Linked DNA regions of Homo sapiens: region 2 is linked to region 1. The links come from fine-mapping of genetic effects on gene expression. A gene starts in region 1. The other region holds a variant in brackets. All regions are shown on one strand. Distances are from middle to middle.

Region 1 (8,335 bases):
AATCATTTACTGAGTCTACTAAAAGGGCATTCTCTCCTGTCTACCTCTCAGAAGAAATTCCAATTGCTATAGGACCCCTAAATTCTCAGGGATACAAGAAAGACATGTAGGAGGATTGGAAACGATTAGGATGTATTTTAAGACTGAATGCAGCAATCAATGCAGACTAAAAAGCAGCAATCAGACATTTCTACACTTGTCAAGTGCTCATTCTAAACGATGAAAACTACAGACTCCAGGGCTCATAAATTGCTTACCATTTTTTTTAAAGCTGTTTGGATATACTACATAGAAGTAATAGCTACCATGAACATAGTTTGAGTTTAAAGTCTTTTAAAAAGTTTGAGTTTTAGGTTTTAAGGGGTGCGGACTGGGGAGTAAAAGATGAAGGGAAAGAGAAGAGAGCAAGTTAATGTGTTGATTTAACTGCAAAATAATAACAGGATGTAACAGAGTTCTGAGTATCCAAAGTGACCAATCAGAGCCTAAACATAGCTGAATTCCATCCCAGCCCCAGCACGTCCCTAACACAAGAATAAAACCCTTATCTTGTTCAGCCATGTGTCGCCTGCCACAAACTGCAAAACAGAACAACGCCCAAAACCAGCTAGTCTGATTTCAACTGAGGACAGACAGACTCTGTAGTCAGAAGCACCACAATGAAAGAACTCTAACTCACACAGCTGGCCTGGTGGTTCTGCACACTCTACGAAACAAAGCCATACCACATACAGCACTTCAAACTTGAAAGGATCTCTATCTAAAAAGCTACACTGGTGCTGTTAATTTTCCAACAGTTCTAGAGTCAGCAAAATATACCTACAGTAAGAGTTAGACACTACGAAAAAAGGATGAGGTAGGGCTGACAGAAAGCTAGAAACTATTATATACTCGTAACTTTGTTAAGACACCTTGGCAGAGAAATAATACTAAACCAGTACCTCCAGATTTCACCCCAACATATATTCATATTAGGAACAACTACTCTCTTAACAGCAAATGGATGCTTTATATTTACAAAATATATTTAAATGTGGTCAAATAAGAATAATTCTTAATAAAAAAAGACCCTAGTAAAAAAAAATCCTACGAAACAGGTCTCAGCAGTGCTTATTAATTGGCTTTCCAAGGTCTTTTCTTTAAAAAAAAAAAATGTAAAATTAGGCAGCAGCACCTGAACCAGTTCAAAAAACATTAATGCCCAAACCAATTTGCAGATTAATCTTACAATATTCATTTTGTAATCTCTTGTGCCTGCACAGTGCCTGGCCAAAAAAAAAAAAAAAAAAGAAAAAGAAAAGAAACAGGCTTTCAGTAATTTCATATTTATTGAATGTTTATATGCCATCTACGTTATAAAGAGGATACAAATTCCAAGATTCTATTTCCAAGATAACGAGAAGACAAGGAAAATCCCTGAGAAGCAATGCTGAAGAAAAACCATTACTTGAGGGCTTTTCACTCACTTGTGTGTGGAATGAGTCCGTTCTGTTTCCATAAATTAAACACCTCAGCATCGCAATGAAAACCAACATTACATTAGTTCCTAGCAAGACTTTTGTTTACAGGCTCAACAGAAAGAGCGAGAATTGAATGAAGCAGGAAAACAATTATCCCCACACCCGTAAAAGTGATTTCTCAGAAGCAAAACACCCTGAAAGGAAAAAAATGGGGATAACCAGAAGAAAGTAAGATAAGCATTGTCAATACTTATCTTAAGTGTATTCTTGGAAAAGTTAAAAATTATTTCATTGAAAATGAAAACCCACTTTGAAAAATACACAAAGAGTAAATATAAATACTTTAAATATTTAACAGACTCTTTTAAGTGAACATTCATGTGATGCTGGAAAGCATCAACAGGAAGAGGAAGTTCTGTTTCTGGAGTAGCTGTTATGGTATGATAATGGAATTTGGCCCTTTTAAAATCAACAAATGAGTCTTACAATTGGGTAAAACTCTTATTAGGAAATTAAGACTACTTTGTGCAGAAGCACTATTGTTGCACTTTTCATCAAAGAGCTTTGGCCCTCTAATTCAGTTACTTGATCTATTTTTTCACGGTGTAATAATTCGAAGACTGACTTAAAAATAAAGCAAGCTGACAAATTTGGGACTAGCATGCAGTGTCATAATTAAATTGAGAATGAAATGTGGTCAAGGAATCAATATGCTTTTTATCCCTTACCCTATAAACAAGAGTAACTTAGGATAAGCAAACTGCACTTCAACCACACATGGTCTAGCTCAATTCGCCACCCACCACCATGCAACACTGGTAGGTGCTATAAAGGACAGACACAGAACTCAACAAATTCAGCTGCGCGCTTACACTATGCTTACGGCTTATATCTCTTAAACGCCAAGTGTTTCTGGAAGACGAAATATTTAAATACAAGAATTAAAAGCAAACCCCATGATTTACCCTCATTTCTTCAGCTCCTGGACATTGCTTCCAGCAAGAACCTGTGATTTACTGGTAATGTCAACATTCTGGAAAGTTATTAGATAATAATTAAACACCGTGCAGGTCAACATCTGAAAGAGATCAAGTTCCCAGATCACCATGCAGTAGGCTCAACATTAAGTTCACAGGTAGAAATTCCTAAAATGTAATTGTCTTGAGAATCTACTGCAGGACACGGCTAAAGCTGATAAATAATACACCAATACCGAGCCGACTTCAGGCACCGACCTTCACCTAAAATGACCTTCTCCTCTGATTTCCAGACGAGTACACAATCCTAATGCACACTACAGGCGGAAAACCACAATCATGGTTTTGCCTCCCCCTTCTCTGAGAATCGGAAGGGAAGTTTCTCTCCGGAAAAATTACATTTCCAAAAGCCAATCAACTGGATAACTCGGCAGCAACCCCAGGCTAACTGCACAGCTCCGAAACAACCCTCTTTCCTCTGCCTGTCAACTTCGCTGGCCAAAGGCAATCTGCAATCACCGACTCCCCTGCTAGGTCGGGCCCGATTCCGGGAGGCCGAACGAAGGAGGAATTCATACCAACCTGTCGGTGATAGTAGACTGTGTGCCACTCATTGGGGCCCTTGGCGAGAGGTCCTCCTTTTATCCAACTTGCATTTTACAGTAACACCTCCTCCCCACCCCCAGTGCTCTGGGATCAGGCCCAACTCCGTCAGGGACACAAAAGTCCAACTCAAAACTCCATTCAGTCATCTAGACCATCCGACTGTAAGGGGTCAACGGATGCGGCTTGGAGCAAAACAAGTTATCTCCCAAAACGAACTGAGAAAGCCAGGGAGCGAGTCAGTCCAGAGTGAGTCGAGCTAGAGAGAAATCCTCCAGAAGGCACAAGGATAAACTTCCTCAGAGAGGGAAATCCGCGCGCAGTGGGAAGGGGACCCGGGACTCCCGCCGGGGCTGGGGCGGGATCAGCTCACGGACGGGTGTCGGCTCCTCCTCCGGAGTCTCGGGGCCTCGAACTCCCCGCCGCGGCAAGGGCCGGGGCCCTCCCTCCCGGCTCTCTATCTGGGGCTGCCGGCTGCTCGTGGCCGCAGCGTTGGCCGCGTCTCCGGCCGTCCCGCGCCGGGCTCGCGCGATTCCATGTCCCGGGCCCGGGGCTCCTTCTGTGCTCGCCGCCCTCACCAGGCTCCCGGTGCTGGGACGAGCCGCTGGCGCCGGCGGAGAGGTCCCGCGGCCCGAGGTGACAGGGACCCGGGTCTCTCAGCGCCGCGGACTGCTCCCCATCCCTTTGAGGCCCGGACTCTTCCGCAATCGCCAGAGGCGGCGGCTCCTCCCCGACGCTCCCCGCGAGGGGCGGGAGATGCCCGTCCGGCCCGGCCTGGAAGCCCTGGTCCGGGAGGCGGAGGCGGCGGCGTCTCCCGGCGCAGGGCCGGCTCGCCGGGTTCTGGAGGCCCTCGCGGGCGCGCGCGCAGACAGCGGAGGAGGCCGGCGGCCGTGGGGGCCGCGCAACCGCGGGCGCGCGCGCGGGTTCCGGTTCCGGTTCTGGTTTCCCGGCCCTGGCCGCGTCCGGCGCGAGCTCGCGCTTCCCGTCCCCCGCCGACTTTATGGCCCCCTCCCCTCTGACTTCGGGAAGCCGCCTCACCCGGGATCCCTCCGCCGCTCAGGGCCGCGCTCTCGCCCTTGAACGGACGCCTCCGCCGGAGCCCGGTTTGGGAGAGCGGCAAAGTAGTCCTACGGGGCAGAGGGAGGTGGGACCCGTGCAGCCCCGGGAGGCCCACCCACCTCCCGCGGCGCCTGGGCCCCTGAGTGCCGAGACATGCCCCTTCGAGTCCAGTTTGTACTAAGTCGACTTTCACCAGAGACCGCCCGAGAGCGCCCCCCAGATCCCGAGGACATCGTGCCGGGAGGCTCTTTGAAAATTACCAGCCCCCCTTGTCCTGGAAACTTTTATTACTTAAGGGAATGTATTATCTCTCCTGTCTTCTGGCTGCACGCGTTCTGCCGGTTCCCGGCCGGCGCCCCTCGCTGCCTCCGCAGGCCCCGCTCACCTGGGCACCTGCCGGCTCCGGGGGGAGAGCGCTGCATGAGCCGGAGGCGCAGGGCTGCGGGAGAGCAGCTGGGGACTGCAGCCAGGGTTTCTCGGTATAAATATTACTTTTAGGCTGTTTCTGCCTTGGCAAAATGAAATGTGTTATTTGCCAAATTGATAAAGCATGGTGCTTTCCATGGCGACTTAACAAGCGTGTTGTGGAAAGAACTGGGAGAAGAAAATGAAGTATATTTATCCAGTAAATAGCATTACGGTTCTCTCTGAAGGATTCCCAAACGGTTTTTCGGTTTTTTCCCCTACTGGGTAGAGAGCTTTAGATACCCATCTAGTTTTATGATTGAATAATTCAGTATTTTGGCAATTTAGGTACCACATGTAATACAGTTCTTCAGTTCTGCCTGCAAACATCCAAAGTGGCTATTCCCTTTATCCAACTATTTTCAGACTTTTGAGCTTAAACCTATGTTGGTGACAAGGGATTTCAGCCATTTTGTGGAATCCAAGTAGCAAATCAAATCTAATAAACAGTGGATGTGGAGAGAGGAAACAATTACCTCTTAACAATGCTGTTGCAAAAAGTCATTCCGCAACAGTTCATGAAAGGATCATTATCCCCGAATAGAGGCATGAGCTCACGCTGACGTTAGTTAGAACGGGGGGGAAAAAAAGGAAAAGATAAACAGAGACCAGAGACGACTCTTTATTGCTCGATTTTTTAGGTTCAAGGCACAGCCAACTAATTTTGTAATGTTTATTTTTGGAAAGAATAGAAGCAGATTAGCCAAGGCACTTCCCTAATGATGAGACCAGGACACATTGCCACCTGCTGGTGTATTCTAGCATGACAATTCTACCCTGAAGACTCTTAAATTGAGTGTTTACATGCAACCGGAAGGAATCCCATTCATATATATATATATATATATATATATATATATATATATACACACACACACACATATACACATATACACACATATATACATATATACACATATATATACATATATATACACATATATATACACACATATATACATATATATACTGACCAAAATGCAAACCTTATCCCCAAACTTAATAAATCTTTCTTAAAAGTACTAAATATCTTATTTTCCCCTATCCTAATAATGTTACAGTGTAAGTATAAAATTAATTGAACCCAATGACTCATCAAATCATGCATTTTGGAGTTCCTCTCTTCCCTTAATACTTGAGGGAAGCCTCAATACTTAAGCTTCAGGAATAAAACAAACTGGGAAAGTTTCCTAATTCACCTTCTCTTCCTTGCATACAAAACCTCTTGGCAAGCTGCTTTCAAGATCTTTCCAAACTTAAACAGACCCACGGTTCTAGCTGTGAGCAAAGAAGGCATTTTGCTGTGGGAAAGCTTCAGAAGATGGTAAGCAAAAGATTGAATTAAGCCAGTGGTTATTCATTCCAGAACTAATTTTTTTAAATGATGAAAATCTCTATAGTCACCTACAAAGCATTAATGATTTAAAAAAAAAAAAAACTGAAAGCCTCTTTAAAGCTGCCGATAGCTCAACTGTTCTAAAGGCTGTAACTATAGGATGCCTTCAGAAAGTCAAGCCAGTCTGGGTAGAACACACTCCTCAGGGTCCGTAGTACTTTACTTAGAAAAATGACATTGATGACCCAATCCACTGGGAAAACCTTTGAGGAGGTTTTCCAATGGGGATGATTCTAAACCACATTCTCATCCTCTTGTCCATTCTTTCAACATGCTTACTAAGTATCTACTATGCATCCCAGACTGTTTTAGGCATTGGTAGTACAGTCCTCAAGACAGGGCCTCCAGCTGTCTTCAGATGATGTCTCTGATGTCAACTCACTTGACATCAACATTTTCAAGACAAGTGTCCAAACAGGTGGCAGAACAAGAAACACATTAAGGTTCTTCCTCTCTCTTTTGGCAAACTGTTTTGTGTATGTCAACTGTTACCCCCCAAAATAAAAAAAAATAGGGGGAATGATGGATAATGAACAGCAGATTAGAGATATTCACTAGTAAGTATGAATACAGGTCAACATTTCTACAGGTCAAAAGGCTTTTTTTAACTTCTTGGCAAAACCACCACATAAATATAAAGACAGACTCTGGGTTTATAAAAAGTTGTTTTACTTTTATAAAATTTAGTACAAATCTTATGGAAATATAAATCGTTCTTGAACAGTGTTCGTTATCATTACACAGTAATCCAGTGCAAATGAGTACTTCATTTTGTCCAAGTATACCACACATTAATTAGCCCTTCATTTACCTGTGGTTTCAGAACTTAGCATTGTCTTAACTGCTGAGTCATCTTCAGTTCACATTGTTCTCTCAGAAGTTTTTTCATAGTTATTAGTAACAACATCAAGAAAAGCTGAAATGAGGGATTCCCTTCCCCTTACCAATTATTCAGATTTCTCACCATTCAAAAAAACCTACATACAGTTCCATGAAAGTGTCCCCAAAACAACAAGATCTGCAGTCCCTTCACTTCTGAGGAGTAAGAGAGAAAAAGAATTGGTACCAGATTAAGCCTGTTCATTTGTCTGGTATGGAACAGGTTGCACTGTGCCAAAATTCAAGAGCCAGCTTTTTTTCTTTTTTTTAAGCTCATGTGCCAGGCCACTCTTTTCTACAAGCTTTTGCTAAAATCAGCATTCCCCAGCATCCTACTTTGACCGCAATTTTGTTGGAAAGAAGCTTACCAGCATTTTAGGGGCGCTCATCATAGAAAAAAAAAAAGTGGAGATTAAGAAAAAAAACAGGAAGTGGAGATGCTGTCAGATTATCTCAATGCCCAGCAAAACTCTTTAACCAAATGACATTCATTTTTAAAGACCCACTGTTAACATGCATTTAAAGTTACTGTTTCCCTAACAGTGATGACTTTATACCATTCCAACCACTCCCTCATACCTGGTTTCTGTGGCCAAGACCATTTTTCATTTTCAAGACCGCTCATGGCTGGGCACGGTGGCTCACACCTGTAATCCCAGCACTTTGGGAGGCCGAGGCGGGTGGGTCATGAAGTCAGGAGTTCAAGACCAGCCTGGCCAACATGGTGAAACCCCGTCTCTACTAAAAATACAAAAAGTAGCCAGGCATGGTGGCACACGCCTGTAGTCCCAGCTACTCGGGAGGCTGAGGCAGGAGAATCACTTGAACACAGAAGGCGGAGGTTGCAGTGAGTTGAGATCACACCACTGCACTCCAGCCTGGGCGACAGAGCAAGACTCTGTCTCAAACAACAACAACAACAACAACAACAACAAAAGACACCATTCATTACGTTAGATTACCAGTGGCCATGGAATGGACTGATGCTTCCTACTGACCAGCCTTGACTCCAGTAGCACCATATGCTTGCTCACCCACTGAGCTAATCAAACACCATTGACTTCAATAACATGGTAAAAATAAATAATCAATAAATACATAAATACTTCATATTTCCATAAAAGCCCTACATTAAAGACCTCCATTAATAAAATGCCACATAATGTATTTATGAAATATACTACAGGGTATTTCATTCATTCACAATAGGTTTAAACTCAGGCAAAGAAGAAACAAGTAACCTATCCAAAGTGAGTGAGTAGCTCTCCAAAGTGGCAAGTGAGTAGCAAAATTAGTTAAAAGAACCCAGGAATTCTGGATTCTTAACCCCTTGTTCTAAGCTTATATTCTTGCTTCTCTTGGAGACTGTCACACTAAGAATTATTATTTTTTTCCTTCCAAGACTGGCCTTGTTTTATTAGTTTGTTCATAGAGTGGTACCTTTTTAGTAAAAATAAGAAAAGTAGGAGGAGTACTAAAAGGGAAAGTATCTAAAA
Region 2 (8,335 bases), 33 kb after region 1:
CAGGGCTCCTGTGAGTAATGCTCGTGAGGCTGCTGTTTACAGATATGCCTGGATGTGAATACTGAGTGAAATGTGAAATGAGATTTGCAGCCAAAAGCAATGGCACTTGGTGACAGACTGTTGGTGTTGGAGTCATTTTCCTGCCAGTGCAAATGTTTGAGCTAAGGCTGTAGGGGCCATAGGAGGGATATCCCTGAGGAAGGATTCAGGCATCTGATGGAGACTAGGAATGGTCACAGGGCCCTTCCCCAGAGATTCGAAGACCTTCGGATCATTTCGCTCATTTCAGTGCTTCCATAAAGGCTGTCTAAGGGACAGCCTGTAGGGGGAGCTTCCTGCCCCCTCCCATGCTTGCGTGTGGAGGCCCTTCCGTATGAGTAACAGCCCTGGCTGGCTGCCCCACCCTTTTCTCCCTCTCCAGTGTAACCACGAATCCATATGAATCGACTGAATAGAGCCCAGCCCTGGAGACTGGCTCACTCCCTCTCTCTGCCTAGGCCGGCAGTTCTCAACCGGGGGGGACTCTGCATCACCACCACTCCCCCTGGGACATTTGGCAATGTCTGGAGAGATTCTTGGCTGTTTCAACTGGGGGTGGATGCTACTGGCAACTAGTAGGTAGGGACCAGGGATGCTCAAAACATCCTGCAATGCATAGGCCAGTCCCTGGTAACAAGAATGACCTGGCCCAGGATGTCTATAGTGCCAAGGTTGAGAAGCCCCATCCTGTATGCTAGTCCCTGCTGCCAAATGTGAGGTCCCTTGGCTTACACGCTTGATCTCCTGGGTTGCCTCCCGGCCACCACCCCTCACTGAGTCCTCCTGCAAACCCCATTCCTGCTGTCAGGCTTTCCTGACCAGCATGGGTTGCAGTAAGTCCCTGTCTGCTGAAAACCTCCTCAAGAACTACCCAGGGAAAGACCCTGTGTCGTGCCTGTGGTCTCCCCCTCCCAGTGAGACCCTAGAGGCCCCACTGCCCTGTATCCCTGACTAGACTTATTCCAGACAGCAATCTGCATAAGTGTATCTGCTCTGCAGATCCAGACTTTGTTGCTGGCAAGCTGTCCTAAGATCTATGCTGGGTGGGATGGGGTAGGAATGGAATGGGGACAAATCCTGATGGACACAGACCTAAATCCACATCCTTCTGAGGGCTTCTCAGTAGTCGAGCTGACACTTTCATCTACACTTGCCTGTGTCCTGTGTCTTGTTTCTCCATCGGCTCCAGTCTCAGGAGAAGAAGGGGGTGTTAGGTATCAAACTCCCAAAAGCCCCAACACGACAAGTCACTGGCCCTTCCCTGCAGAGCCCTCTAGGGCCCCTGGCATCCGTGTTTGCGAGGCCTACCTGCATCATTCAGCCACTTCTCCAGCAGGGGCTTGAGCTTGCACATGTTCTTGAAGCTCAGGTTGAGGGCCTCAAATCGTGAGATGGTGGTCTGGCTGAAGTCGTTGCCATACAGCTTTCCCATCGCCAGCCCCACATCTCCCTAAGCGTGGGGACCGAGGGGGAGGAACATGAGAGGCAGCCTCCTCCTCTTGTTTGCCCACATCCTGCATGGTCCTAGCATCGATCACACAGCCAGCCTGAATCTTTGAGTGCTCACCCATGCTCGGCTCCTTTCCAAGTCTCCTCCCTCTAAGGTGAAGAATCGGTTTCTTTCTCTCCTTAGACTCTCAGTGGACCACGCCCACGTGCTCAGGAGAGCCAGCCCCTTTTCCACCTCTCATTCTCCTCCACCAGCAACGTCCTCAGTTTCCCTACCAATGGCAACTGTGCCCTATTCTCAGAGAACTCAGGGACATGATGAGGAGACCCCAAACACATCGAGCCTCTGGTCGCTCTTGAAACCTGCACTTGGGAAGCCCAGTCTCCAGCCGCTCGGCTAGACTTCTTCTATCTTTTCCCCTAAAACCAAACCTGTGTGAAGCCCAGCTTAATGCGCCTCTGCTTGAAGGTCTTGGCAAACTTCTCCAGCTCCTCGAGGTCACTGGGCTCATCGGCCCCTCCAGAGCTGGGTAGATGCTTGGGCACTGGGAGATGCTGGGATGCTTCCAGGTGGGGTTCTAAAGAGGATCCTGGCAGCCCAGGGTGCCCAAATGCCTGATAGGAAACACGCCAAGCAGATCCACCACGAAGATCAATAAATAACATTTTCTGATTTTTTTTTTTTTTTTTTTTTTTTTTTTTACTAATAGGCCCACTTAGAGGATGACAGATCCCTGGATACACCCTGGGTACATTGGAGTCTTATATTTTTCCAGTGGCATGGAAGTGGAAATTAAAGTTTCTATAAATGTATAGCAAATAACTGGAATATCTGGGTAGAAACATCAGGAGTGCAGGATAGGGAGGTGGCCTGAGTTTAGCCTGTGACTCACTTTTTGAGTCTTAGCAGGTTACTTCCTCCTTTCAGTTTTCTACCATAAAAGGAGCTAGCAGGGTTGTTTACAAAGATTCCAAAAACAAATCACAGAACTGGACAAAGAAAAGGTTGCTTGCTTTGTTTTTTTGTTTTTTGTTTTTTTCCATAAAGCAGGTAACTGAGGTGTTGAACAGGCATTAACTGAAGATAACAGGGGACATCCAATAACTCATGGCCTTCATAGAACTTTCCTAAAATGTCAAACTCTTGTGCCTCATTTTACTTTCTAAACCACCATTTTCTTTCATGAAAGTGTTTTGTTTTTAATCAAAGGTATTTTAATCAGTACCTTTATAAAATGCACCTTGATCACATTTGGGTTGCTAGGAGATATTCTTTCTTTCTCTCTTTTTCTTCTTCTTCTTCTTTTTTTTTTTGAATCAGGATCTCACTCTGTCACCCAGGCTAGAGTGTAGTGGCACAATCACTGCTCACTGCAGCGTCAACCTCCTGGGCTTAAGTCATTCTCCTGCCTCAGGCTCCTGAACAGCTGGGGCTACAGGCGTGTGCCACCACACCTGGCTAACTTTTGTTTTTTTAGAGACAGGGCTTCACCATGTTGCCCAAGCTGGTCTCAAACTCCTGGGCTCAAGTGATCTACCTGCTTTGGCCTCCCAAAGTGCTGGGACTACAAGTATGAGCCACCGTGCCCAGCCAAATATTATTTCTTGAGCTTATTTTCATAGGAAAACGTACCCTTAAACCTAGAACCATGCTGTGCCTATTTGGGGTCAGGAATGAATCCGATCTTAAGGACATCTATCATTCCACAAGGATAGAGTGGAATCTGGGCCTAGGGGTCCAGGCACTGTGGCCAGCTAGCTCAAAGGGCTAAATCCACCTCTTCTCTCCTTTTTGATTTACTTTTTGTAGACTAAACATTACTTCTTCTCCTCTGGGATATTTGGGTTTACCATTCAGATAGGTATCCTTATGATGAAGAAGGTAAAAGGACCTCTAGAGAGAAGTTTAGGAGTCTTTCCCCCAGTGAAGGGTCTTTTAGTCTGAAACCATCATGAATTTGGTCTTAGTTTGCAGGGAGAGGGTGTGTGAGGAGAGTGTGGCATAGACCAGACCCTCAGGACAAAGCCCCAGTCCTCTTTGAACCTTCCTTTTCATTAAATCATTTGTTCTTTCATTTGACAAAGACTTATGGGGCTCTCTGCTAGACCTTCTCCCTCCTCCTTTCATCTCCAATCCACTGGCAAACTGCACTGATTCAACTTCCCAAAGCATCTCCTCAATCATCCCCTCTTCTTATTGCCACAACTCTAAGCCAATCCTTTATGACCCCTCCCCTGGATGATCTTCATAATCTTCTATGTGGTCTCTCTGCTACCAGTCTCTCCATGCCAAAATATGATAAGAGATGAGAGTTGATCTTGAAGATTCTAAGATCTCTTCCAGCTGTAAGCCCATGGCTATGAGATTCTGGAGAGGGCAGCCAGGAGGAGGCGGAAGAGCAGCTTATGATGCTGGTGTCCCCATTTCAACCACTAGATGGCGAGCTTCCCCTCCAGGTACTTTTAGTGGCCTCAGCCCTCTCTGAAGGCCGGGCTCTTGGTGAGCCATGGGGATCTTAGCACAGAGATCTCTGCAGTCATTCCCAACCATTCTGCCCAACCATCTGTGCAGAGCCATCTCATGCAGCTGTGCAGGTTATTAACTGTACAGGGGCACCCAGATCAGGGGAGGAATGGCAGCTAAGATACAGCTCATGCTGCTGTCGCCAATCTGTCCACCTTGGCATGAGACTGCACCTGGCCAGAAGAGGTGCCTTTTTCCTAGTTGGAAAAAAGGTGCTGTGTGGAACCATGGCAGCTCTGCAAACAACCCCTCTCCCAGACCTCAGCCCACTGGCCTATATACGTGCCCACTGCAGGAGGCAATCTGGAATAGTGGCCCAGAGGTGAAAGACACTGGCTTTGTGGTCTGGGACATCAGGTCTGTAGTATTCTAGTCTCCCTCTTGGGGCTTGAGAGCACCTAGGTAGGGTTCGTGGCCATCTTGGTATGCCTGAGAAGTGAGCTGAGCCTGGCTCTCAGAGGAGCAATGCTGGGGCCTGTGCAGGGTTGGAGTTCAGTGCCTGGAGCATGAAGGAGGCTGGCCTGGGAGCTGGAATCTCTGGATTCTAACTGTGGCCCCACCAGTGACACTTGGTAAATTGTCCCCCCACTTGCTGTAGCTTGGATTTCCCCTGTGCCAATGGATAGTTCCCTGCTATCCCCTCTCCCCAGAGGGGTTAGTGCCCTGTTAAAGGGGTAGGGGGAAACCAGTGAGTTAAACTCAGTGAGAGCTGAGACATTCCTAGAGGAAACAGGAAGAATGGGGTTGTTTACCTGGGATGCCAGTCCCGGCCCAGTCTGTGGGAGGAGGAGACCGCTTTGTTGCTGTGGAAAGGGGAGGAGATTTGGCTGCAGACCTGGGTGAAAGGGGAGGGACAAAGGAACAGACAAATAAAATCCAGGCTATTTGAAACACATGTGCTACAACTTTGGCACCACGATCACTGTCCCCACCCCCTGCCACCTGATCAGGTCCCTCCACCCACCTCAAGTCCCATGGAGAGGCCCTCCTAG[C/G]ACTGCCAGGCATTGCCACATACAGGTGGAGGCAAATCAGATACAGGGATAAACAGACATGTAAACAGCAGTCCCCAAACCAGTCCTTCCACCTGCCCGCCTGTCTGGAGAGGCGTAGAGGCTAAGGAGGGTCAAGACGATCTACTCTGGGATCTGATTACCAGAGCTGAAGAAAACCAAGAAGGGAAAGGATGCAGGGTGGCTGCTGAGAATTCAAGCTAGGGCTGAGGATTTTGGCTTTCCCTGCAGGAGAAGTAGCTGGGTTATGGCTACAGAGGCCCAATCAAATCTGCGAGGATGCCAGACCAAGCAGATACGACCATACGGCTCTAAAGGGCAGTGGGCCTTAGCCAGAGGCATGTGGCTGACCAGGACATTTTATACTTGGGAGAGAGGGCTGAGAGAGGAGGGAAAGTCCAGGGCTGAGCCTCTGGAAACTCCCTTGGGCAGTATGTATTATACCGGCTTCTCCATCCTCCCCAGGAAAACGGTACATGAGGGACTCTGCCTGGTTGGTGGCTCACTCTCCCAGCAGGAGTGGGGCCATCAAACCACCAAAGCAGACAATGGGGTTGGTCATCCCAATCGCTTGTCACTCAACAGCACTTTGGGGTCTCTGTTTTCCCTAGGCTGTTCTGGGTCACAATGTACATACAGCATCTGCTGATGTTGACCTTTATGCTCTTCAGTTTCAAAAAGTCAGGGCTTCATTGTTCATTATTAAAATACATAGGCAAGAAAGCTCTTACAAGGAATCCAGAACTGGGAGTTGAGAGGCTTGGGTACTAATGGCAATTCTGACATGGCGGTTGAAATGGATACAGCCTTTTCACATGCATTATTTCAAGTGACTCTCAATAATCTCATGAGGCAGAGCCTTGCTATTATCCCATTTTTTCAGAAGAGGAAATGGAAGCTCAGAGAGGTTAGGTAACTTTCCCCAAAACACACAGTTAGTAAGTGACTTTTTAAAGAAACCAGTAAATTTTTCTGACTCCAAATTTGGAAGTGTCTTTCCACCACTGCATCATACACTGACCTAGGTGGTTATAAGCCTGGGCCATTTTCATGTCGCTCTCCAGTCTTCTGAAAACAAATTAAACTGTTACCTTCCCTTTTCCATTCCAGGAGTATGATGTTTATTTTTTAACCAAAATAAACACTTAAAAATTCAAATAGGGTCTCATTCATCACCATAATATTCTGAGGTGCCTTGGAAACTAAGGATAGTGACTGTCATTTGTGCAGGTGCTAAGGGCGGAAGGCAGAGTTGCATTTTGTTTGGATTCTGGATTTCCAAAACCTCTACTTGGGATTTGTGCAACAGGAGAGAGTTTATACTTCCTCCATTATTTTTTTTTTTCAGAGACAGAGTTTTGCTCTGTCGCCCAGGCTGGAGGACAGTGGTGCAATCTTGGCTCACTGCAACCTCTGCCTCCCAGGTTCCGGTGATTTTCTTGCCTCAACCTCCTGAGTAGCTGGGATTACAGGCATGCACCACCACACCCGGCAAATTTTTGTATTTTTAGTGGAGACAGAGTTTTACCATGTTGGCCAGGCTGGTCTCGAACTTCTGGCCTCAAGTGATCCGTCCACCTCGGCCTCCCAAAGTGCTGGGATTACAGGCGTGAGCCACCGAGCCTGGCCAACCCTCCATCACTTTTGACCCTAGCTGATGGAGATGGGAGTGGGACAGGCAGCACACTGTGATGACCAAGAGTATGGGTCTCAGCTAAACGGTTCTGGAACTTCCCAGTAGGTCACCAGAGGCATAATAGAACTACCTACTTTACAAGGTTATTTTGAGGAATGTCAGAAAAATTACTCAGAAGAGCTCCTGGCACATCATGCTCAAGAAATGTTAGCTATTTATTAATAGTTCAATCTATTTGCTCTTGGCCAGGGAGAAGTTCTCTGCGAGTAACTTCCCTGCCAAAGAAAACCTGAACACCCTTTCTACAACCTGTGGGTGGCACTGCTGCTCTCTCCAAATAGAATCACAGCCAGGCTTCCAGGAAGCAAGTCTGAATCTGTGTCCAGGAGAGATTTCCAAGGAATTGGGACTTGTCTGTACTGCATTTCCCAGGGCGCTTCCCCTCCCTTGTACAGCATAGCTCTGCTCCACGCCTGCACCTTCCGTCTCCACTCACCACGAAATTGAGGAGGTGGACCAGACCACCCAACAGGAGGCTGGGAAGGGGAAGCAGAGAAGGAGACTAAGCCTGGAGGAGCATTGCCAGGGTCCCTTCCTCAGACCCTGGGGTGGATAAGTAGGTCTTAATAGCAGATGGGTGACTGACTGACGCATGCTCTCCAATTAGGCCCCCTCACCCAGCAAAAAACAGCAGCAACAGCAGCACTTGACTGGACTTGGTCTAGGTGGAAACCCCCAGGGTTCTTACCTTGCTGCCCAGGCTGGGTCTGAGATAGCAGGAACTGGGATACAGACTGTAAGTGGCCGGGAACCAGCACAAGCTGCTGGAGCGGATGGAGGGAAGCCATGTCCTACACACGGAGAGATACACATACACCACAGAATTTACAAGCTGGGGACATCAGCCCCATCTGCCTGCCACTCGTCCGTCCCAGGGGTCTCCAGACTCAGAGACTTTGCAGGCTGACCTTGGTTTATGCCACTGTGTATCCCCAGTGTCTAGCAAATAGTAGCTACTCCGTTAACACTGGTATTGTTACAGCTTCTGCCCTCAGCCTAGGAGTCCTTACTACATATTGTTACTTAACCCTTGCCTCCTGAGTTAATTTTTGTATGTGTCAGTCCTGTCTCCCAACTAGACTATAAAATGCCCTGAAGGCAAAGCCTGGGTATGACCCATCTCTCAAAGTTTATCCTAGAGATAACATGCAATCCCCAACTATCCAATTCTTTTTAAATCTCATGCCACCTGGTTATGCTAAAAGCCATGCCTCGGCTGTTTCCTGGGCCAGAATCTTTCCTGGAGGGTGTTGGGGTGGGAGTTGGGGGGTGGAGCAAACTATTCATTCTTAATAAAACCAATTTAGTTAAACAAAAAGTCCAGGATTTCTCCTACCAGCCCAGGACATAGGACTAATAATTCCGATGCTTGGGGGATCGGGGAGTCCTCTGCAATGGAGACGCCAGAGCTCTGTGCCCCATGAGGTTGAGCTTAGGTTTGTGCACATAGAGAAGACCTGAGAAGCCCTGCTAAATGGCAGGTGAAGGGACAGATGCATATTCTTATGTGTTTCCAGAAAGGGGTGGCTCTTTCTCCCCCAGGTGATCCCTGCTGAGAAGAGGTCTCGTCATGTGAACGCCCTCCCGGACCTTGGCTGTTACTATCTCAGACGCCTC

Evidence for each region.
Region 2: its variant is fine-mapped to the expression of ARHGEF12 in whole blood (TOPMed, PIP above 0.99).

Annotation. Positions count from the first base shown.
Region 1 is chr11:120,331,960-120,340,294 of GRCh38, reverse strand. It overlaps ARHGEF12 (Rho guanine nucleotide exchange factor 12), which reads right to left and starts at 3,882. Exons shown (of 41, transcript NM_015313.3): 1 at 3,020-3,882. The coding sequence starts at 3,051. It overlaps TLCD5 (TLC domain containing 5), which reads right to left. Exons shown (of 3, transcript NM_001198671.2): 3 at 6,609-8,335. RefSeq lists a silencer at 3,426-4,295.
Region 2 is chr11:120,298,798-120,307,132 of GRCh38, reverse strand. POU2F3 (POU class 2 homeobox 3) reads right to left here. Exons shown (of 13, transcript NM_014352.4): 5 at 7,407-7,509; 6 at 4,765-4,847; 7 at 1,921-2,103; 8 at 1,348-1,489. Among named protein-coding and RNA genes, the nearest start is that of TLCD5, 22 kb to the left of the region's middle. RefSeq lists enhancers at 1-355, 920-1,437. The variant C/G (reference allele first, on the strand shown) is at 5,005.